7 linked regions of the Homo sapiens genome follow. The protein of the gene in region 1 interacts with the protein of each later gene in a biochemical or structural test. Each region holds a gene or a part of one and is shown in the gene's direction. Other genes may lie near its edges. The genes, in order: UBXN10, IFT52, IFT80, IFT27, IFT46, IFT57 and IFT74.

Evidence for each region.
Region 2: the proteins of UBXN10 (region 1) and IFT52 form a complex in vitro, tested with the Homo sapiens proteins (one study listed by BioGRID).
Region 3: the proteins of UBXN10 (region 1) and IFT80 form a complex in vitro, tested with the Homo sapiens proteins (one study listed by BioGRID).
Region 4: the proteins of UBXN10 (region 1) and IFT27 form a complex in vitro, tested with the Homo sapiens proteins (one study listed by BioGRID).
Region 5: the proteins of UBXN10 (region 1) and IFT46 form a complex in vitro, tested with the Homo sapiens proteins (one study listed by BioGRID).
Region 6: the proteins of UBXN10 (region 1) and IFT57 form a complex in vitro, tested with the Homo sapiens proteins (one study listed by BioGRID).
Region 7: the proteins of UBXN10 (region 1) and IFT74 form a complex in vitro, tested with the Homo sapiens proteins (one study listed by BioGRID).

The regions. Positions count from the first base shown.
Region 1 is NC_000001.11:20,192,596-20,196,095, forward strand, and holds the end of UBXN10 (UBX domain-containing protein 10), read left to right. Parts: 3' UTR 1-3,455; downstream 3,456-3,500. UniProt on the Homo sapiens protein: VCP/p97-binding protein required for ciliogenesis. Acts as a tethering factor that facilitates recruitment of VCP/p97 to the intraflagellar transport complex B (IFT-B) in cilia.
Region 2 is NC_000020.11:43,639,437-43,642,936, forward strand, and holds part of IFT52 (intraflagellar transport protein 52 homolog), read left to right. Parts: intron 1-3,042; coding exon 3,043-3,188; intron 3,189-3,500. UniProt on the Homo sapiens protein: Involved in ciliogenesis as part of a complex involved in intraflagellar transport (IFT), the bi-directional movement of particles required for the assembly, maintenance and functioning of primary cilia. Required for the anterograde transport of IFT88.
Region 3 is NC_000003.12:160,392,726-160,396,225, reverse strand, and holds part of IFT80 (intraflagellar transport protein 80 homolog), read left to right. Parts: intron 1-3,500.
Region 4 is NC_000022.11:36,759,120-36,762,619, reverse strand, and holds part of IFT27 (intraflagellar transport protein 27 homolog), read left to right. Parts: intron 1-3,500. UniProt on the Homo sapiens protein: Small GTPase-like component of the intraflagellar transport (IFT) complex B that promotes the exit of the BBSome complex from cilia via its interaction with ARL6. Not involved in entry of the BBSome complex into cilium. Prevents aggregation of GTP-free ARL6.
Region 5 is NC_000011.10:118,544,043-118,546,487, reverse strand, and holds the end of IFT46 (intraflagellar transport protein 46 homolog), read left to right. Parts: exon of another isoform or gene 1-340; coding exon of another isoform or gene 341-369; intron 370-634; coding exon 635-695; intron 696-993; coding exon 994-1,079; intron 1,080-1,476; coding exon 1,477-1,572; 3' UTR 1,573-1,945; downstream 1,946-2,445. UniProt on the Homo sapiens protein: Forms part of a complex involved in intraflagellar transport (IFT), the bi-directional movement of particles required for the assembly, maintenance and functioning of primary cilia. May play a role in chondrocyte maturation and skeletogenesis.
Region 6 is NC_000003.12:108,163,425-108,166,924, reverse strand, and holds part of IFT57 (intraflagellar transport protein 57 homolog), read left to right. Parts: coding exon 1-71; intron 72-1,431; coding exon 1,432-1,494; intron 1,495-3,195; coding exon 3,196-3,262; intron 3,263-3,500. UniProt on the Homo sapiens protein: Required for the formation of cilia. Plays an indirect role in sonic hedgehog signaling, cilia being required for all activity of the hedgehog pathway.
Region 7 is NC_000009.12:27,057,412-27,060,911, forward strand, and holds part of IFT74 (intraflagellar transport protein 74 homolog), read left to right. Parts: intron 1-3,179; coding exon 3,180-3,240; intron 3,241-3,500. UniProt on the Homo sapiens protein: Component of the intraflagellar transport (IFT) complex B: together with IFT81, forms a tubulin-binding module that specifically mediates transport of tubulin within the cilium. Binds beta-tubulin via its basic region. Required for ciliogenesis.

The DNA.
Region 1 (3,500 bases):
TCCATGACTCATCTGATCCCTTTTATGGCCAAATCATCCTTCAGAGTAGGGAACACTCAGACATTCTGTGCATGTTGTTCCCCCAAAGCATGGTCATCACAAAGTCCTGAGTTCTGGTGTGTGCTCCCGCCTCCTGGGTATACAGAGAGAAGGCAGGAATCAGGAGTTCCAGAAGCATATACATGTGGCTACCCCAGCAACAAGCGCATCCTGTGCTCAGATAAGCTGCATGGTTGGGAGTGTTTTTTCTCGCACGTTGAGGCTTAGTGGAGATGGGCACCACTGCCATTTGCTCAGAAGAAGGCTGGTCTGGTCCTAACTGCATCCCACACTGCCCAGATCATTCTAGAATAGGTTATTTCTGAATGTTTTATAGAATTTCTTAATACCATCCTGGTTTGGTCAGCCATTCCTTTGATTGGAAAGGTCAGCTGGGGCCAGTGGTGCCTCAGGCAGGCCCACACAACTGGCCACCTCTTCCCGTTAATGACCACAGCAGACAGAATTTGAGCCCAGCACCTAAAAGTACAGGAATTTCACTTCCCACCAGGACTTGAGCACATAACTCTATGTCTGATCTAGGAGGCTGGGGGAAGAGCCTCCCATAAAATCACACCTACTCTGTGGTAAGAATAAAATCCCACCCACCTGGGACTTGGTAATTTCTCCAGACAGGAAAGCTTTAGAAAACTTGAGTGAAATGGAGCAAGCTTGAAGGAGTTAGAATCTTCTGTGCTTAGGGTTTGCTGCTGCTGGTGAGCTTAGAATTTTGGGGTTGGGAAAAAGTGGAAGGCATAAGCATAGAAATATTTTAGGATATTTTAGGATATGTGAATAAAGCTAGACTCAAACCATCATAATAAACATTTTTTTTTTGGACAAAAGATGATACGATAAAAACCAACTTGTGTGAAACTGAGTCAGTGGAGAAGTGCATCTCGTATTTTAACCTAAGGCTTCAGCTCCCACACACGACTGGACAGAGGGGTGTGTTAGCCTGATCTTCAGTTTTCTCATTGGGAAAGCACTTGTTCCACTGTTAGAACCAAGTCCTCCTCCCCGGACACTTCTGATGCCCACTGCAGAAGCGACGGGGCTCCTGCTCTCAGCTTCTGTCACAGCACTTAGCTTGTCTGGATAAGAGTCACCTGAATTTTTCCTAAACATCATTCCAAGTACTCTGATTTTGGGGATTGGCAAGAACAAACTAAATCAGAATTCAGAGTTCCTGATGGCTCCACATGTTGCATTGCAGCTGAGGCCCCCTGTCCTAAATGGGCTCAACCGGCCTAGCACACTCCTCTTGGTGGCTTTGGGTGGGTCAGCCTTGCCCAGTTTGGGGTCATAGACCTCAGTTATTCATTTAACCGATGGCCATTGAGGGCTTACCCAGTGCCACACTTTGAGACAAGCATGGGTGTCCTGAAAAGAAAGTGTTGGCAAGAAAACATGAACCCACCATTGGACTCTCAACTCAAACCTTACTGAAGTCAGTGGCTATAGCTTTATCTGCAAAGGACCCCAAAGTGAGGATCCCACATTGTTACTGCTGGCTCTTCATCCCACCCTCTGGAGATGCTAAGGAAGCTCTTGCCCACCTTTTCTAGTGATGGAGTAGGAACTTTGCATAGGACAAACCTTCATGATAGGTTACTCTAGTATATTCCCTCATAAAGTCCAATAGGTAAATTAGTCTTGGCAGCAGAAGGAACAGCAGGAGAAGTAAGTGATTCATCATCTAGAATCCAGAAAATTTGCACCAACAGATGGCAGGTGGTTATAACACAACAGATCTTGCCCTGAGAATATCTGGGGACCCAGCCAACAGCCTTCAAGGCAGGGCACTCCTGCGGAAGAGATGGCTTGTGAACATGACTGTGGACCCAGAGTCACCCCAGAGCTCCCATATAAAATGCTTCACAGAGAAACTAAGAGCAGCCTTGGGGCATTCATTCCAATTAATAACCTTAAAGACTAGAGCCAGATCCACCTGCATTACAAAAGCAGGCATTCGAGGAACTAAACTTTGCTTTTGTTCATGCTCTTACCTGCCGTTTTAAATGGGTTTCTAATGTCAAATAAAGCCACCCTGCCTCTTGGGACAAAGATGTTTCTCTTTACTTAGTTTTAAAAATAAAATCCTCATAATAAGTTCGGATAAAAGAGACTTTTACATGGTAAGAGGATCTACTTTTCTACCTTTTAAACGGAATAAAGAAGACAGCTATATTATTTTGCTTTAGCATTAGTTTAGAAGTCATTCCAAGAATTAAGCAGGAACATCTGTTTTCTCAGTCCATTAAGGCAACACCCCACAGTAAAGTTAAAAGTTCACGAGCCTATTGACTCTCATCCAGAAACCAGAACCAACCAAACCCCACCATATAACAGGGAAGGCCTGAGGTCGCTTCGGAGGAGTTAGCAATCAAAGGAGAACAGACTTTTGGTGACTCAGTTACCAACACACAACACTCATAAAACTAAAATTAGGTGTTTTATTTTTTGTCTACACGGGTGGCGTGCCACTTTCCTTTCCTGATTAGGGAAGCTTCTCCCAGCCCTTTCTGACGTTCATCTGTGTGCCTTTATGTTCAAACAGTTTAGGAAGCAGCAGCCCTCCTAACAGTCGACGCGGAAGCACAAATCTCTGGAGGTATTTTTGGACACACTTAAATCCTATCCCAAGAGACTGAACGACTGTGGTGACAAATGCCCACGGGTAAAACTGAGCAAGCCTCATTCAGACTGTCCTGCTCAGAGGCGCCCTCTGGCTGCCGTGTTGAGGGGCTGGGGTGGAAGATGGAAGACTTGAGTGCTGGAGGTATGAAGGTGACCAGAGAGAGGTGATGGTGGTTCGGGCCAGGGTGGTAGCCAGAGATGTCATGAGAGGTGGCCAGATTCTGGACATATAATCCATTTTCTTAAGGAGAAAAAAAAGGATAGTTTGACAAGTTGGGATTCACCCAGGTGGACTTAGCTTGACCAATATCGCCAACGTGGATTGTTTCTGCAAAAACAAACAAGCAAACAACCACCACGGCAGCAAAGCACATGGCAGGCAGGGGAAAGACACTGACCAGCAGGAACATTCCCATCAAGGAAATGCACGAGTGTTTTTGGACAAAGTGTACAGAGAAAATCAAAGCTATTCATTGTTTTAATTAAGAGATAAAACTAAGGTCACTGTTTCACTTAATGTTGAGATATAAGTTAAAAGTATCATCTACCTCTAGGGGTATGATATGACTGCTGACCAAGGTTACTTAATAAGAAATCCTTGTTCTAGTTAAATACACTGTTTATCTCTATCTCCTGTCCTTCATCCCTCCCTTTCTTGCCACCCTTCCCTCCATTTATTCCAGTCCAGCAGCTGACTGGGGATGCATTTCTTCTTGGGAAGGCAAACAAAGCCATCATTCTGGGGCTTAATTAATAAAGCTCCTAGTTTCATAGTTTTCATGCTCACCTCGTGTTTATATGAGGGGATCTGTGCAGTGGGG
Region 2 (3,500 bases), on another chromosome or scaffold:
AAGGTGGGCAGATCACCTGAGGTTGGGAGTTCAAGACCAGCCTGACCAACATGGAGAAACCCCTTCTCTACTAAAAATACAAAATTAGCTGGGTGTGGTGGCGCATGCCTGTAATCCCAGCTACTGGGGAGGCTGAGGCAGGAGAATCGCTTGAACCCAGGAGTTGGAAGTTGCGGTGAGCCGAGATCGTGTCATTGCACTCCAGCCTGGGCAACAAGAGCGAAACTCCATCTAAAAAAAAAAATTTTTTTAAGTAGCCAGGTGCGGTGACGCATTTCTATATTCCTAGCTACTTGGAAGGCTGAGGTGGGAGGATCACTTGGGCCCAAGAGTTGGAGGCTGCAGTGAGCTATGATACACCTTGCACTCCAGCCTGGGTGACAAAGGACCCTGTTTCTGAAAAATAAATAAATAGAAACAAAATAGAATATTACATACCTGTTAAAAGAAAAATGTAGCCTGGGTGCGATGGCTCACACCTATAATCCCAGCACTTTAGGAGGCTGAGGCAAGAGGATCACTTGAGACCAGCCTGGGCAACACTGTGAGACCTCTTCTCTATAGAAGAATAAACAAAATTAGCCGGGCATGGTGGCTCACTCCTGTAGTACCAGCTACTCAGGAGGCCCAGGTGGGAGGATTGCTTGAGCCTAGGAAGTCAAGGCTGCAGTGAGCTAAGATTGTGCCACTGTCCTCTAACCTGGTTGACAGAGCGAGACCCTGTCTCAGAAAAGAAAAGGCCAGGCGCAGTGGCTCATGCCTGTAATCCCAGCACTTTGGGAGGCCGAGGCAGGTGGATCACAAGGTCAGGAGTTTGAGACCAGCCTGGCCAAGATGGTAAAACCCTGTCTCTACTAAAAATAAAAATAAAAAATTAGCCAGGCATGGTGGCAGGTGCCTGTAATCCCAGCTGCTTGGGAGGCTGAGGCAGGAGAATTGCTTGAATTCGGGAGGTGGAGGTTGCAGTAAGCCAAGATCACGCCACTGTACTCCAGTCTGGGTGACAGAGTGGGACTCCATCTGAAAAAACAAAAAAGAAAATAAAAAAAATGCAGGGCATAAACTTTGATTCGGAATGTCCATAATACATCATTAAATGATGAAGTCAACTTAGAAAACTATTCTAGTTTGATCCCATTTTTGTGAAAACTTACATTTACACACAGAAGCATACATAGCAATAATAATTCTAGGTAGTTGGTGGCAGTAGAACTAGGATGAAACATTGATACAGCTGTGGGTTTGAATGTCTTAGTAAAAAACATACATTTCTATCAAAACTTAAAATGCAAATCAGAGGGAGAATAAATTAATTACAGCTGGGCTCAGTGGCTCATGCCTATAAGCCCAGCACTTTGGGAGGCCAAAGCAGGTGGATTGCTGGAGCTCACGAGTTCGAGACCAGCTTGGGCGACATGGTGAAACCCCGTCTCAAATACAAAAAATCAGCCAGGCGTGGTGGTACACACCTGTAGTCCAAGCTACTTGGGAGGCTGAGGTGGGAGGATGGTTTGAGCCCAGGAGGCAGAAGTTGCAGTGAGCTGAAATCATGCCACTGCACTCCAGCCTGGGTGATAGAGCCAAACCTTGTCTCAAAAAAAAAAAAAAAAAAAAAAAAGGAAGAAAGAAATTACAGTATAATGTGAGAAGGGCAGTAATGGCTGTCTATCCTACATGTAGGGCTCCAGAGGATGGCTTCACAGAGCTATGTTGTTGGTGGAATTATGGGTGATTTTTTTCTTTAATTTTCTTTCTATAATATTGTTTGTTTTTTGGGGTTTTGTTTTGTTTTGTTTTGTTTTGAGACCTAATTTTGCTCTTGTTGCCCAGGCTGGAGTGCAGTGGCACGATCTTGGCTCACCACAGCCTCAGCTCACTGCAACCTCTGCCTCCCGGGTTCAAGCGATTCTCCTGCCTCAGCCTTCCTGAGTAGCTGGGATTATAGGCATGCACCACCACGCCCGGCTAATTTTGTATTTTTAGTAGAGATAGGGTTTCTCCATGTTGGTCAGGCTGGTCTCGAACTCCCGGCCTCAGATGATCCACCTGCCTCAGCCTCCCAAAGTGCTGGGATTACAGATGTGAGCCACCACGTCCCCCAGGCTGGAGTGCAATGGCGTGATCTCAGCTCACTGCAACCTCCGCCTCCCAGGGTTAAGCAATTCTCCTACCTCAGCCTCCCGAGTAGCTGGGATTACAGGTGCGCACCACCATGCCCGGCTAATTTTTTTGTATTTTTAGTAGAGACAGGGTTTCACCATGCTGGCCAGGCTGGTCTCGAACTCCTGACCTCGTGATCCGCTCACCTTGGCCTCCCAAAGTGCTGGGATTACAGGCGTGAGCCTTCACGCTCGGCTGTTTTGTTTTGTTTTGTTTGAGATGGAGTCTGTTCTGTTGCCCGGGGTGGAGTGCAGTGGCGCAATCTCTGTTCACTGCAACCTCCATCTCCCCAGTTGAGGTGATTCTCCTGCCTCAGCCTCCCGAGTAGCTGGGATTACAGGCCTGCATCACCACATCTGGCTAATTTTTGTATTTTTAGTAGAGATGGGGTTTTGCCATGTTGGCCAGGCTGATCTTGAACACCTGACCTCAAGTGATCTACCTGCTTCAGCCTTCCAAATTGCTGGGATTACAGGCATGAGCCACCACGCCCAGCCAATACAATATTGTTTTAGTAAATGCTATTTTTAATTACCCATATGCTTCTCTATAGTCATCTTTGTTGCATTCAGGGAATGATAATTTGATTTCCTACTGTTGCACCTGTTCTTTCTAATGTAGGAATACTAGATCTGAGGAATAGGAAAGCCAGTACCAGTCCAGTTTTATTCTGATTAGGAGTGCTTTTATTATAAAAGCAGCACATTAGAGAGCTCTAGGGTTTTTCAGTGTTGAAATCCTGTAGTCACATTACTTTAGGAAGAGGTGAGTGATCTTAGGAAATGTGGAAACATGACAGGGCATACCTGAAACACACTAAGTCTGTACTTTGGGAAGGGCAGAAGTTAAGAATTAATCTAACTACTACTCCAACTGTCTTAGGTACTGAAGAAGACCTGGAATTTTATGTCAGGAAGTGTGGTGATATTCTTGGAGTAACCAGTAAACTACCAAAGGACCAACAGGATGCCAAACATATCCTTGAGCACGTCTTCTTCCAAGTGGTGGAGTTCAAGAAATTGAACCAGGTACAGAGCCTACAAGGCACAGTGTAGTGGGAGCCCCTCCAGTACTGGTATCTTCCATGGACTGTGCTTGCCATGTTTTATGACGTTGATTCAGCCTGTAAATATTTATTAAGCATCTACTAGGTGAACAAAACAGACAATAAACCCTGTACTTATGGAACCTATATACTAGCTGGAGGATGTAGACAATAAGCAGTAAACATAAGTGAGTCACATAGGATGCTAGAAAATGGTAAGTGCTTTGGTATAAAAGAAGTGGAGGCTGGGCGCAGTGGCTCACGCCTGTAATCCCAACACTTTGGGAGGCTGAGG
Region 3 (3,500 bases), on another chromosome or scaffold:
TAATGTTACCGAAACACACATAACTTATCACCGAAAACCCAGGAAGCTAGAAGGCAGAACAGCTCTTTTTTGGAAATATCATTTTGAAAGATAAGTATGTTTTTATTCCGTAGGTTGGAATTCTGGAAAGATATATTCAACAAGCAGTAGAGGTAGAGAGTATGGCTTAAGAGAGAAAATAAAATGGGTAGTGCTGTAAGAATAACTGGATCACTAAAAATAGGTTAGGTTTTTAAGATTGTAAGTGGAGAGAAGCTAGCACCAGACCAAGGATATTAAGGAAATGTTCATTTTTAGAATGTAAGAAGAAGAAATAATTACAGTAATATCTAGGATAGGAGCCTGTTGATTACAAGTGACAGAAAACCCAATCCAAATTGTCTTGAGAAAAAACAAATATTGTCTCCTGGAACTAAAAAGTCAGGTGACTATAACTGGATTAAGGGTTCAGACAAAGACACAAGGATTTGGTTTCTTTCCTTGCTTTGAACTCCATTGTGTTGGCAGTATTTTCAGGTTCCGTATGATGGCCTCTAGCACCTTTTGGCTCTCCCCTTGCTGTGGTAAGATAGCTACAGCAACTCCAGCCTCATATCTTCTAAAATTAAAATCCAAGGGGGAATGAGAGTTTCTCTTCCCCAGCATTGATTTGAATAAAAGTCCTGGGCCACCTGTGAAACAGTCTGTGCAAAGGGAATGGAATGCTCTAATTGGCTTAAGTCTGGGCCTCATGCCACATGGGCTAACAGTGAGGAAGTGGTTGTTGCAAAGAGAAATTCTTTTTAGGTGGGAAAAGAGTGACTATATATATGCAGGGTGAAAAAACAACTTTCACTGGAAATACTAACATTTATTAAGTGCTTACTGTGTATTGGGTACTCTACTGGACACTTTACATACTTTATCTCATTTAATCATCATAACTAATTTGTCAGGTAGGTATTATTAGCCTCATTTTACATAAGAAAGTAAACAAAGTATAGTATCTTCATGAAGATAAGCCAGGTGAGAGTTTTAATAAGAAGGGGATTCAAGTGTGGAGAATGGTGATCTTATAAAAATATTATTTATTAGGGTTTTATAGAAATGCAGAAATGCATAAAAATTAGGTCATAATCCTTTCACTCAGATAATTCTATATTAAATATATAAGTGGATAGATTAAATAATACTGTGAGCATTGTTGAAAACTTCAAACAGAACAGAAACATATAAAATTAGAATTTAAAGCTTTCCTTCTCATCCCAGTGCCCCCACCCTTTTAGGGGTCTCCATTATTAAGTGTCTTGCATATCTTCCCAGAAAATGTTTTGGTATCCACCAGCTTAAATATATCTCACTTTTTCTTTTCACAAAAGGAATTGAATCATATAATACAGCTGTATACCTTGGTTTTCTCATTTAACATAGACATCTTTCTATATCAACATGTACAAATTCATCTCATTTTTAAAATAGTTTTTTTTTTTCTTTTTTGAGATGGAGTATCACTCTGTCGCCCAGGCTGGAGCGTAGTGGCACAATCTTGGCTCACTGCAACCTCCACCTCCTGGGTTCAAGTGATCTCTCCTGCCTCAGCCTCCCGAGTAGCTGGGATTATAGGCGCCCGCCACCACGCCCAGCTAATTTTCATTATAAGTATAGCCAATACGAATAATATTGAAGTATGGCTATTAATCATAGCTAGAATTTCAAGGAAATGTAAATACCACAGCGTACACATACACTTTCGCAAATGCATACAGGAATTGAGATGGGGTGGGAGTTGGAGGTCTTTACTAATTAAACCATGGTTGTCCAACCCACGATCCATGGGCCACATGCGGCCCAGGACAGCCTTGAATGCAGCCCAACACAAATTTGTAAATGTCCTTAAGACATTATGAGATTTTTTTGTGATTTTTTTTTTCTTTAGCTCATCAGCCATCATTAATGTTAGTGTATTTTATGTGTGGCCCAAGACAATTCTTCCTCCAATGTGGCCTAGGGAAGCCGAAAGATTGGACACCCCTGATAAAGTAAACGGCCATACTGTTTGCTGTGGCTAAGCCTTTGAGTCCGTGCCTGGAAATGGTGAGCCTGCTTCTCTCTCTTTTCTACTGTACAAGAGATCTCAGCTCAAGTGTGCAAGTTCTGTGATGGCACCAATCTGAATAAAAGGCTTGCCTTTCTCCTTTCTTCTTTCTCTATTGGAGAAGAGACACAGGAGTCTGGTCAGAGCTATCAATTTAGGGGACCGTTGATAAAAACTGTACTTCTTTTAATAGGACCTTGGTTAGTAATAAGCCAGCCTGCTTTCTCTATTAACTAGTATGCAAGTGACCCAAAGAAAACTCGGTATAAATATGCTTGTGATCTAGCTCTTGAATTTCTTATCTATTCTTCACATTCTTGTTCACTACTAGAGATTTTTCTGCCACTTCTTATCTATAGGTACATTCTTGTTGACAAGTCATGGTCTCCCTGTTTATCATCTAAAATTTTTCTTATTGTTAGTGCTTTTACCTCTTAGTTTTATTTCCTAAATCTAATTCTTTTATTTTCTTTTTTAAAAACCATCTTTTTTTTAAAGTGTACAGTTCAGTGACATTAAGTATATCCACAGTTGTGCCACTGTCACATCCATTCATTCTTCCATCCATCCACAGAACTCATCTTGCAGAACTGAAACTGTACCCATTGAACAATAACTCCCTATTCTTCCTTCCCCTAGCCCCTGGCAGCCATCATTCTACTTTTTGTTTCTATGAATTTGACTACTCTAGGTACCTTATATAAGTGGAATTCATACAGTATTTGTCCTTTTGTACTAGCTTTTTTCAATTAGCATAATGCTTACTTAGGTCTAACTCTTAATTATATTTTCTTGATTTTAACCCTTCCATATTATAAACACATATATCCACACAGGGATGTAAAATCTATGAACATTTAAATTTCTAATTTTTGATAGTATTTCAGAGTTCTGTAATGAACAGATTTGAATATACAGACAGTCTCAGACTATGATGGTTTGACATGATTTATATTGACTTTATGATGGTGTGAAAGGAAAGCACTTTTCAGTAGAAACTGTCTTTAAATCTCTGGGTGAGATAGGAAGCCACTGAAGAGTGTTCAGCAGTGGTTTATTTAATCTAATTTATATTTTTTAGAGACAGGGTCTCACTCTGTTGGCCAGGCTGGGGTTCAGTGGCATGAACATAGCTCACTGTAACTTTAAGCTCCTGTGCTCAAGCAGTCCTCCTGCTTCAGCCTTCCCAAGTAGCTAGGACTACTGGCATTCACCACCATGCCTGGCTAATTATTTATTTTTTTGTAAAGAAGGGGGTCTCACTATGTTGCCCAGGCTGGTCTTGAACTCCTGGCCTCAAGCAGTCTTCCTGCCTTGGTCTCCTAAAGTGCTGTGATCACAGGTGTGAGGCATTGTACCTGGCTGTGGTTTATTTTAAATCAGCCACATGGGCTGTTGTGGTGAGCATACATTGTAGAGTGGCTCA
Region 4 (3,500 bases), on another chromosome or scaffold:
GCAATATTCTGGGTTCAGATGTTGTTGGAACATTGTTTCATGTGGCTCTCACAACCAGTCCTGTGAACCAGAAGTTGGCCCCACAGCTCCCATTCCAGTGTTGAGGAGCTCAAGTGACTTGTCCAAGGTCCCATGATTAGCGAAGGGTGGAGCCAGGATTAGGACTCATGGCCTCTAATTCCCATCGGTACCACCCATCCTCACCTTGCTGCAGCCCCAGGGTGACTCCAGGCCACAAAGTGCCTGCCAGTTAAAAGAGCAGAAGACCTCATTACAAAAAGCAAGTGATTTTCAGCGTCTTCAGTACACTTTTCCTGGCAAAAACTGCAATTACTTTTGCACCAACCTAATGTATCATGATTTTAGCTGTCCAGCACTGAGGAACCTGCTTCCTGTGTTTGGGAGTTTTAAAGTCCCATCCTCCTTGAGGCCAAGATGCAGCCATGTGACCCAGGCTGCACCAATCAGACCCCTCACATGAGACTCCACTAGGAAGGGCATGAAGTGATGATCTGCCCTCTAGGAACAGGTGTGGCCCTGAACATCCATCTCAGAGCCAGCAGGGGCCCGAGTGTTGGTTGCCCTGCCCCTCGCCAGGGTTGCTAGCTGGGGAGATCACCAGGCCTGGCACAGTCATGGTCGTAACTTGGACCTCACCTTGTGGCCTTTAGACCTGATTCTGTGGCCCTCAGAATTGAGTCATGGGCTGGTTAATGTTCTGGAGGTCATCTTCTGCTCCAGCTTGACTTTGGCTCTAGGCACTTCTGCTATTGCATCTAGGAACCTTGACCAGTGCTGCCGTCCGAGCTTATAAAACTCCCCCAAAGCAGCATGCTTCCTTAGGGAAAGTACAGCAGTAAAGGCAGGCACTCTGACCTCCCATGGTGAGTGGCAGAACTCGCCGTGGGAACCTGGACATGTTATTTCACCTGTTGGTGGCTCAGGCTTGTAAAGTGAGGATCATAAAATACATCCCTTATCGAGTAATAAATATGAGAATCAAGTAATATGTCGCATATAAAACATGGATCACAGAGTCTGGCGCCTGGTAAACACTCAGTAGATGTTAGCTTTCTTAAAGTATAAATATTACCCCTAGAATCTTGTTTATACTGTTATTACTTACTAAATCCTTGTATTCATGGCTTGTGCAGAGATAAATATCACCCTTGCCTCTGGTCCAATTATCACAAATGCTAAATTAATGAAGCCCAAATCAGCTTTTCCTGTATAGAGGGTTTGCCATCTTTTCTGCAGCACACCTTTGTGCAAAGCAGTAGGCGGTAGTGCCCTAGCAAACAGGATTTCAGTATTCTCCCTTCCTCCATTCATTTGTGAAATTGTCCCTGCACCCCAATATTCCATATTCCCTAGAACGCTTGATAGAACTCAGAAATTAAAACCCACCCCAACCTCCAAAACAGGAGTCACCAAAGGCCAGTGGGCTACGGGTTAAACTCTGTTGAGGTGTTGAAGTGGGTGGGTGGGTGTGAACTACTCTTGAAGAGGCTGCAGTAAGCACTTGCTATTATCTGTGCAAGTTAACTAGTCCCCCCTGAGTTGAGGCTCACAGAAGCACCGCTGGCAGCTCGGTTAAGAAAGCTGTAATTAAAAAGGAAATATAAGCAAACGCAGCTTGAGACGCAGCCAAGGGCTGGCGCCAAGCTCATCTCCTCCTCTCTTCTGCCTAAACACCGCAGTGACCATCCTGCCTACCCAAAGGAGGTCCCTACAAACAAGTGCAAGAACAATCCGCGCTGATCACTGCCCTCCCAGGCAAGCGAGGAGTGGGGAAGTAACGTTTGATGAGGGCCTACTGTGTGCTAGGTGTTTTGCACACATTATTTGTTTAGGCTTCATAACAGCCCTACAAGGTAACACTCCTGTGTTGTATAGATGACAGACTCAGAAAGGTTGTGTAGCTTGCCCTGGTTGCATAGTTAAACGAGGGCTAGAAACAGGACTAGGAGTCAGGCCTGTCCAGCTGGAAAACTTGGGTTTTCTAGAAGGGGTACCCTGGCCTCCTGCGGAGCCTGCTGTGGGACTCTGCAGAACACAATTCAAGGCCAGACTGAACACTAGCCTGAACCTGCCCTGAGAATCCCTCTAAGCCGACCTACTCCACAGCTGTCCTGACTGTGTAAGCGAGATGATGATTAGTGATCAGACGAAAGGATTCCTGTCATTGGTAACCCTCTCAAAGTATTTGGAAAACAGTTCAATTTTCATCTATTTCAGAAGCACGCCGTGGTGTCTATTGAGGCTCACCTGCATTGAATTCCTTCCTTTTTATGTTGCGATCTCCCAAGATTGCATTGTGGAGTGTTTTCGAATCCATTTTGAAATCCCCGTGCGTGCGCTATGCAGGCCTCAGTCTTTTTCCATTCCATTCTTAACTCTACTTTCGACGGAAGCAGTGTTTTACCCCGACACTGGCTTGCCTAGGACCTTGTGCTCTGCACAACTAGCAGGGCCCGGCAGGATGTACTGAATTCTTGCTCTCGTGTCCAGCTGGACGGTGATGGCTTTCAAGTCCTTGGCTGTTGGGAGCTTACTATAAATGTTCGTCTTGGCTACAAACTCTCCACTCTTTCCTCGGCACTCTCTCAGCATTGCCACCACTGTCTTTCCTCTTGGCCAACTGTTTTCTTTACTTAGGCTTTCCCTTGCTAGAAAGTCCAGGTAACTTTCTCCACGGGACCTGGTTTCCTTCGCACATCCCAGCTGGCCTCGAGGAAAGGTAGCTCTTCCCAAATCAGAGAATCTGGATGCTGGGCTGGGCTCTGCACCAACCAGCTGGGCCGCTTCACCCGCTGGGCCCCAAACTACTCATCTGTGAAGCGAAGGCACCGCGCTTGATGCCTTCTGCAACGTTCTTCAGTTTGGAAATCCTTCTGTTTCGTTGGGGATATTTCACGGCCTCTTCTCAAGGTTGCACTTTTGCCAGCTGCCAGGGATCGTCTCAAAACAGGTTCTTAGTGCATTCATAGCTTGAGCTGCTGTCTTGAAAGTAGTACATTCCTTTTTCTGCCAACTTTTTTCTGAGAAAGTTTTTGAATGCACACGTGCACCCAACAGAGTGAGAGTGGCTGTTAAGAGAGAGGGCGCCATTTCCTTTGCCCTCCAGCCTGTCCCTGTGCACCCTGGAGGGGCCCGTTTTTTCCACCGCTTAGATAAAATCTAGGGCAAGTTCCTGAACTTCTCTTTTCTCTCTCAGGTAACAAAAATTCTTTTGGGCTCCTTTAGTCACAAAGATATTCACGATTTCAGGTATTAAAGTGCCCAGCCCTGGGTGATTGTCAAAATTCTGAACTTGATTTAAAGTGGCACCTCCTCTCACAGTCTTCGGGAGGGAGAGACCGGAGCCAGGAGTGCAGCGTGTTTGCTGGGGTCTGTCGTGGCCCACTCCACACCTGCTGGGTGGATCCGGCTGGTGCCCCATGGGCGCCTCTGAGATGCCCCTCCCCACCCCATCAGTGGCGCTGTCTCACCTGCAGGCT
Region 5 (2,445 bases), on another chromosome or scaffold:
TACAGGGTATTACTCTATGCCCAGGCTGGAGTGCAGTAGCTCAATCTCAGCTCACTGCAGCCTCAACCTGCTGGACTCAAGCAGTCCTCCCACCCCAGCCTCCCAAGTAGCTGGGACTACAGATACTCAACACCACACCCGGCTAATTTTTTTGTAGAGATGGAATTTCACCATGTTGCCCAGGCTGGTCTCGAACTCCTAGGCTCAGGCGATCTGCCCACCTCAACCTCCCACAGTGCTGGTATTACAGGCGTGAAGCCACCACGCCCCACCAAGATTGATTTCTTCTGAGGGGTCTCTTCTTGGCCATCTTCTGTGTCTTCCCATGGTCTTCCCTCTGTTATGCGTCTTTGTCCTGATTTCTTCTTCCTATAAGGACACCAGTCATACTGGATTAAGGCCCACCCTAATGACCTTGTTTTAATTTAATTATCTCTTTAAAGATGTTATCTCCAAATATAGTCACATTCTGAAGTACAGGGAGTTAGGAACTCAATATCTGAATTTTAGGGGAACACATTTCAGCCCATAACCTGTGTCTTATGCTAGAAGCTCTTTTGCTTCAGAGAGAGAGAGTGGTTCTGGGACCACTGACACCATCCTTTTGACTTTGGTCCTTCCATGCCCCTTCCAGGTAAGCCTGCCCACGGCAGAGATTGATTGCAGCCTGGCAGAGTACATTGACATGATCTGTGGTGAGTTCCTCTTTCCTTTCCTCGTCCCCATCTCTGGATAGAGACACTCTAGGCTTTTGGACAGGCTTGTTTACTCTGGGAAGATAGTATCTTGAGTTTCAGCCTTCACTTTAAGCCCGTTGTGCTCTTTGGCAGCACTCAAAGGTGGTGTTTGGCTTATGTGACTACCTGCTGGGTATTTAACCCCCAAAGTCATAGCGACACCCCATCTGCCAGGGCTTTGCCTGTGCTAGACAGAAGGGCCTCTAATTCCCGGAGTTTGTTTGCTTCTGTTCCTGGAAGTTCTTCTTCGTTTCAGCCATTCTAGACATCCCTGTCTACAAGAGTCGGATCCAGTCCCTCCATCTGCTCTTTTCCCTCTACTCAGAATTCAAGAACTCACAGGTGAGCCAAGCATCAGGGGTTGACTTAAGCTGTAGAGAGGATCACTATAGTTTCTACTGTTCTGAGCCTGCTGTGATTGCATCCTATAGCGATGTAGGATGTCTCTGCCCAGTTACCTTCGCCCTTTCCCATAATTAGGAGAGCAAAGGAGGCAGGGATGGAGTTTTCAAGGGGAAAGTGGAGGAAAAAAAAGGGTGGGTGGAAGTAGGAGTTGTGGGCCTTAGATGAAATCAGGTGAGGATCTACAGAGGACACTCGTTCTTTCAGAACCAAGTTCCCTCATGAATGGAAGCAGGAAGGAAATAAAGGGGGTTCATTTTAAAGAAATTAATTCTTGTTAAAATATAGCAATTAGCATATCCCTAATACTCAATATTCCCTCTCCTCTTCCTTGCAGCATTTTAAAGCTCTCGCTGAAGGCAAGAAAGCATTCACTCCTTCATCCAATTCCACCTCCCAAGCTGGAGACATGGAGACATTAACCTTCAGCTGAGACACTTCCCAAGCTGCTGTTTCAAGGCTGAGCTGGCCCCTCTGCCCCAGCTGAGATGGACAGATCGTTGTCAGCTACTTGATGTCCTTGCCCATGCCACAGCTTGGCTCAGGGGCAGTGCATGTCCTGCTGCCCTCTCTGCCAGAGGGCACAGAACATGTTTGTTTAATGAACCTGCCTGCCTCAGATTGCTGTCCCCGGGGAGTTAATGCATCTACACCACTGTGGGGATTTGAGTTATAAGAATTGGAATTTCTGAGATCCCATGGAGGTTAGATTGGGAGGAAAGCTTAAAAGATGTCCTTTTTGTGAGAGGGATGGAATTGTTTTCTTTCATTCGTAAAGTTAGTGAGTAAAGATTTTATAAATCAAATGCTCTATTATATTGTCAGATTATTCTGCTATTTAATATGAAAGAGAAAAGGCTGACTGAGCATAACGCAGAGACACAGGAACTTTGCTTAGTAATGGGCATTAAATGAAGAGTAGTTAAAGCAAACAAATTTTGTGAAATAAAATGAAACCCCAATCCTCCAAGATTGGCAGTCGAGGGGAATCATTTTTCCTCTGGAATTTAATTTTTCTAAGGGTCTCTCTTCAGTTAATGCCGCCTTCCTGAGGCTGTCTGGCTCCAGACCTGTCTGGTTCTGGTCTCAGGGAGCGTAGCTATTGCGGTAATCCAGGTGAGAGGTGATTGGGGTGGCAGTAGTAGAGATGGACAGATTCAGTAAATATTTTGGAGTTATGTCAGCCAAGCTCCAGTCAGGAAGTCTGAAACCATGCTAGTTATTTCTAACAAAGGGTGTTTAGCCAGGCACAGTGGCTCACGCCTGTAATCCCAGAACTTTGGGAGGCCCAGGCAGGCAGATCATG
Region 6 (3,500 bases), on another chromosome or scaffold:
AAAAGTACATCAACAATCAGCTTGAGAATTTGGTTCAAGAATATCGTGCAGCTCAAGCCCAGCTGAGTGAGGTAATTTAAGAATGATTTCCAAGGATTTATTCAAGTTAACAACCCTAAACCCTAAACTTGACACAATACTGTTCATTTGAGAATCATGAAATGCTTTTCATGAACAGCAAAACATCAATTTTCTGCCCACTTTAGGAAGCCAAGAGAGCCGAGTGAACTTATTTCCATTTCACATGTAATAGAAGTTGTTTTCTCCTGGAAGTCTTTAAATGCACGTCTTCATTTGATTTAAGTAAATGAAGGCATATGCTGTTGGGGGAACATAGCTTAGAACAGGAACAGAGTATCAGGACACCTGGTTTTGCTTCTATAAGTCTGTTGTTAATTTACCATTGGCGTAGGAGGAAGAAGAATAGTATGCATTTACATGTGTCAAAGGAAAAAGACAGTCCTTGCCATTCTGGCTTACAACCACATAATAAGGAATGTGAAAGCAAGATACATTCAGAGACAAGCAGTTTAATTAATAAAATGAGACAAATTTTTCATTCTTTCAAAGTTTTAGAATTTTAACCAAAAAATAAAATCACTAGACTTTGAAAGCACCAGTTCTTTGTCCCAGCAGTAGGGATCTAAAAGCTTTCCTTTGGGATTTGTGCCCCCTATTTTCTGATGTTAAAGAAGGCTAGTAAGGACAGTTGCAAACATCAGTTGAAGGCATATTTTTTGTCTTCAGCAGACAAAGTTGAGAAAGAGAAAAAAGTAGAAGTAAATTTGAGATACTTCTATACTTTCAGAAGTCCTCAAAGACTAAATAGAAATCTACACTTTTTGATGTTATTTGTTAAATGTATTATTCCTTCATATACACAATTACTTATGAATATTTTAACTATCAAAATGATGTAAAACTCTCTGATCAAAGCCACCATGTATTTGTCTAATATTAATATTATATAATTGATTGTTAGTTTCTGACATACTCCAGTTGAGTGTACTGTCTTACGGGATGTTAATCCTTATTCATCATTGAGCTTCATGCTCTACTTTGATTGATTTTTGGTTTTAGAACGGACTTTCTCTGCGGAGCATGCAAATTAGATTGACCAAGAGCCCCTCTCCTAAACTGTTTAGGAATGACCAAGGACAGTTTTTATTGTGAACCATGCCCATGCGAGGTACACAGTCAGTTTGTGAAGGTTAAGGTAGTTCATCATTTTGTAGTACTTAGTTAAATACATGCTGCCTATTAGGGACATAAAACAGCTACAGTTAAATGTCACTTTCACAAATGTATTCACAAACAAGGAGCAGGGTTGTCATAAAATGACCTGCAGAAATTGCAAACACAAAGAGGTCAGTCGTATTTAATCTGCTGCTGCTTTGAATTTGCCATTAAACAAAATGTTTTTCCTCTCAGGCAAAGGAGCGATACCAGCAGGGAAATGGAGGAGTGACGGAAAGAACCAGACTCCTCTCTGAGGTACACACTGATGCTCTTGCCCTGCTTCTCACCTGTCAGCTGGGCCCCAGCCATTGAGAACCTACAAATGGTTTAACACTGCTAATTTCAGTTGCTTCCTGTGCCTTTAAATCATTTTCTTTAGGAGATAATCCCTAATTTTCCTATGACTGAATCAATAATTGATACATTTCTTGTTTCCACAGGATGCCTGAAGTTTCTGTATTAAATTCAACATAAAACCTGCTCATAATATTAGCACACTTATAATTTTCCTCAACATTTTTTACATAATAATTATTATTAACATGGGGATGAATAGTAAAGCACTGACTTAAGGAATCTATAACAAATTTTAACGTTAGTCTGCAAGATATAAGGTTTATTTTTAGTGACTGTTATTGATAATTTGTGTGTGATCCTGGGTGTATTTCTCTGTCCACAATTGGGAGTGGCTTATAACCTCCTCCTTTAGAATATTTGCATAAAAATAAATAGTTGCATTTATTTTTATGATCTTGCAAGAGAGGTAGGACCTGATATATATTCCCATTTTTCACTGAAGAGCCAAAGGAGGAAAAAACCTTGAAAAAAGGTCAGTAGTTTATTTGGGACTAAAATCCAAGATGATCTTTGGTTACAATCCAGTATAATTGGAACAAACTTTACTGTTTTGACAGGAAAGAATTAAACCTCTTTTATAGAGATTATTTGAGGAATAAAGTTATTTTAAAACACTAAAAATATAACATCAGAAATATTTAGACTGTAATCCTGTGGTGCTTCTAAGCAAATAAAACAGTATGTAGAAGTAAAGTGTTCACTTATGTTAGGTAAATTAACACTTGAAGGGAGTCCAGGGAACCATTTACTTCTTTTGGAGTAGATAGTTATCCCCAGTTGTAACATTTCAGATGCCTGAAAAAATTAATTTGCTTTACTTGGATGAGCACTTTATTCCCAGGGAAAGTTTTACTCACCAGTATGATAAAAATAAAGCCTACTAAGTCACAATAATTATAGCTTAGTTGTAGATCATGTAAAAAATTTTCAATTTCTTAAAGATAGTATTTTCTACTTATATTAATGCTGGTTTGGAATTTTGCTAATAATAGAGGTTATAGTAGTATAATCGCCAGATAGAGTGCAGATAGGAACAAGTGTGACAGCAAAGTATGCCTCCTTGGAGTTCGGAGTTCATGATTTGGATAAAGCAATAAGAATATTCTTATATATAGCCATATGATATAAACATTTTTTAGTGTCCTATAGAGGAAAAAGTGACATAATGTCTTATAGAACTATAATATTAAGAAAGATACCCAGAAAAGCTTTAGAAATCTAAAATCTCTTCAGGATGTTTATACTATTTTAATTAATAACCAGTTATTAGAGAATTTCAAAGTATATGCGATGAGATAATTGCGAGGTTTGAGTGTCTAGTGACTAAAACAACTTTGATTGTGTTTAGTATATTGCAACATGAGAAAACAGATGTGACAGCCATTTGGTGAAGTTTAACATTAGGAGCATTCTGAAAAACTGAAAAGCTTTGTATATCTGCATACTTTATATTATTTGAATTATGTCCAAAATATTCCTAATATCTTTATTTTTCTATATGTGTGGCTAATATCTAAATTACATTTTCTTAACACATAATTCAAAAATTGTGAAAGTTTATTAAAATGTAATGCTCATGAAAACTTGTTTTCATGAAAGGTTATGGAAGAATTAGAAAAGGTAAAACAAGAAATGGAAGAAAAGGGCAGCAGCATGACTGATGGTGGTAAGTACATGCTCATTTTAGGGGAAAAACTGAGCAAGAGAAAAATAGCTCTTCAAGAAACCTACTTAACAAAATAGTATTAATATATAAAACAAATTATTTGTTGCTTGTTTGAAGAGAGATTCATTGTACAAAAATGTCTGATAATCAGCGTACTGTTTTTCTTATAAATCAGCTGAGAAGGGTAGGCTTTTTAACTATAATTTAGAGGTTTTTAACATTCAAACTATTGATTCAA
Region 7 (3,500 bases), on another chromosome or scaffold:
CTCAGCAATTATTTGTTGAATGATTGAATGAAGCATTATGTGTCATGTACAAAGTCAATAACTACGGTCTGAAAAAAATTGATCATTCTTATATCTAATTAGTCTATATTAGAAATTTGCACACATGGTTTAAAACCCTAAATGCATTAAAAATTCCCTCTTTTGGCCAGGCACGGTGGTTCACGCCTGTAATCCCAGCACTTTGGGAGGCTGAGGTGGGCGGATCACGAGGTCAGGAGATCAAGACCATCCTGGCTAACAACGGTGAAACCCCGTCTCTACTAAAAATACAAAAAATTAGCCAGGAGTGGTGGCGGGTGCCTGTAGTCCCAGCTACTCGGGAGGCTGAGGCAGGAGAATGGCTTGAACCTGAGAGGCGGAGCTTGCAGTAAGCTGAGATCGCGCCACTGCACTCCAGCCTGGGTGACAGAGCGAGACTCTGTCTCAAAAAAAAAACAAAACTCTCTTTTTCTTCATATGGTTATGTGATCATGATAGAGCAAAATAAAAATGATGTCATTTGATTTTCCACTACATAGGTACAACCGTTGTTAACATTTTGGTGCCATATCCTTGTAGTATTTTCATCCTTTGCAATCATACATCCATATTGTTTTTACAAAAAATAAAACCATGCTATTCATACAGTCTTTCAACATTTTCTTAACTTTTTTCAGCCTTCTTTTTTTTTTTTTCAAACAGAGTCTCACTGTGTTGCCCAGGGTAGAGTGTAGTGACATAATTGTAGCTCACTGCAACCTGGAGCTCCTGGACTCAACCGATCCTCCTGCCTCAGCCACTGAGTAGCTAGGACTACAGGCACAGACCACCATGCTCAGCCAATTTTTATTATTTTTTATAGAGACAGGGTCTTGCTGTATTGCCCTGGCTAGTCTTGAACTCCTGGCCTCAAACTGTCCTCCTGCCTCAGCCTCCCAAAGTGCTGGGATCACAGGCATGAGCCACTGTGCTTAGCCTTTTTTTTCTTTTTGAGACGAAGTTTTGCTCTTGTCACCCAGGCTGGAGTGCAGTGGTGTGATCTTGGCTTACTGCAACCTCCACCTCCTGGGTTCAAGCAATTCTCCTGCCTCAGCCTCCCAAGTAGCTGGGATTGTAGGCGCCAGCCACCACGCCTGTCTAATTTTTTTGTGTTTTTAGTAGAGACAGGGTTTCACCTTGTTGGCCAGGCTGGTCTCGAACTCCTGACCTTAGGTCATCCACCTGCCTCGGCCTCCCAAAGTGCTGGGATTGCAGGTGTGAGCCACCACACTCGGCCTTTGGTGACATTTCTATAGCATTAGCTATTTCATTGTATGGATGTACCATTTGAAAACAACATACACCTTACATTCTTTTTGAAAAGGGTAGAATCTCATGAAAGCTTGCTACAACTACTAAAAGCTTAGAAATCACTAATTTACATAATTCAAATTTACCAGTTATTCTGTTCTACTTCATATGGAAACCTAGATATAGACTTATAATTGACACAATTTTCTTAGGTTGTTTAGAGTGAGGATGAGTGCTGGGGAAGAAACAAGACAAAGTTTGGGAGGTCATTGTCTTCAGCAATTCTTGGAAAAAAATACTGATACTTCTTATGGAATATTAGCCCTCCTCATTCACTGAATAGATGATTTAAGGTGGAAAGCACTTGAAAAACACCATTTCTTAGAGCCAGTGAGTGGTTAACTTGTTTATCCCCACATTAATTGCTAATTTTAACTCCATGTATTGATAACTGGAAATCATAACATAAGCCACAATTTCGAATCCTTCTCTGTGTTATTTGTCATCTTTTGTGAATCCCAACTGATTAAGTCAAATCCTGGTCTTCCTATCTTTCACAATTATCTTCTTGAAAACTGGCTTTTGGCATCTCTAAAGAATTTTATGTAACAGATTATTTAAACTAGTTAGGGAAAAACAGATTTTCAAAATGAATTTTTGCTTCATGATGTCCTTGGAGGTTTAAAGGAGTCAATAATATAGAGGTATAATGTAAAAGGAATTTGACCATCTGACACAGCATTGCTTTTATACCATTCCTGTAGCACTTAACAGGTCTGATGCATTATAAGAAGGCCACCTGTTTGTATGAAACAATGACAAAAAAGTCTGGTACTTGACTTTGCTGAAGGTTATTAGAAATTTACTGCCAGAAACTGCTGACTGCTTCCTTAAGTCCATCTTAACTTCAAGGTCCTGTCTGGGGGAGATTGATGTGATTAGTAATACCAGCTCACAGCACATACAGTTCACATAATTAATTAGCTATGATTCATTCTAATATCTAGATTTATCTCTTTGGAGGAAACAATGAGATGGATCTACATCAAGCCTGAATTTACGCCCTGAAAATTATTTTAACATGAGGATAGAAACATTTCCACTGTTGCTTCAATTATTGTATTTTTAAAAATAATCATTACTTCTTTGAAATGTCCAGGTGGAACATAATTTTAGCATTTCAATTTTCAAATGGTCCTTTGCTTTGGAAAAAACTATGTGCATCTTAAAAAAGAAAGACCATAACCAGAGTTACAAGGTTAATTAAATCAGAAAAACAATATAATTCTATAACAGTAAAATTGTCTTCTGAGGAAGCAACCATCAATATAATATCCACATTAGCTTCCTGTTGATGCAGAAATTATTGTAACAGTGCCAGCTTTTTACCAGCTCTCTTATAATCTTCACACTGCAGCTCTGCTCTTATCACAGCTTGTGGAATTACACAGGAAATTTAGCCCTGGAAATAAGGAAGTTTCTCCTATATGGCTGAACCTTTGACAGTGTTTGAATATGTATTATATTTGTGGCATTAGACTTCCAGATTTTAAGAAGAGATTCCCATCATGTCCCATTTTTCTTTTAAAAGTTTTTTTAGGGAAAGGAAAATCATAAATTGTCTTTCAGTTGGCATGTTCATTGGTATAATAAACATTTAAAATATAATTAAAATAAATATATAGAGTAAAACATGTTATAGGATTCATCACTGTATTAATATATTTACTATTATTTAATCTTTTTTTTTCTACCGTGGCTTTATCTCAATAAAATGTAAGTTGATAAGATTTAAAGTTGGAGAGATTTTTTTTGTCTTATCCTCTTAGAAAGGCATTTAATTGTTTTAAATATGGGTCCTAATTAATATTTTTCTTTTATGTTTTTAGCTTACAAATTTGGAGAGAAAGTGGCAACACCTTGAGCAAAATAATTTTGCGATGAAAGAATGTATCCTTTAAAAAGCTGAAAATGGGGCCGGGTGCGGTGGCTCATGCCTATAGTCCCAACACTTTGGGAGGCCGAGGCAGGTGGGCCACAAGGTCAGGAGATTGAGACCACCCTGGCTAACACGGTGAAACCCCATCTCTACTAAAAAATACAAAAAAAACATAGCCGGGCGTGGTGGCGGGTGCCTGCAATCCCACCTACTTGGGAGGCTGAGGCAGGAGAATGGCGTGAAACCGGGAGGTGGAGCTCTCAGTGAGCCG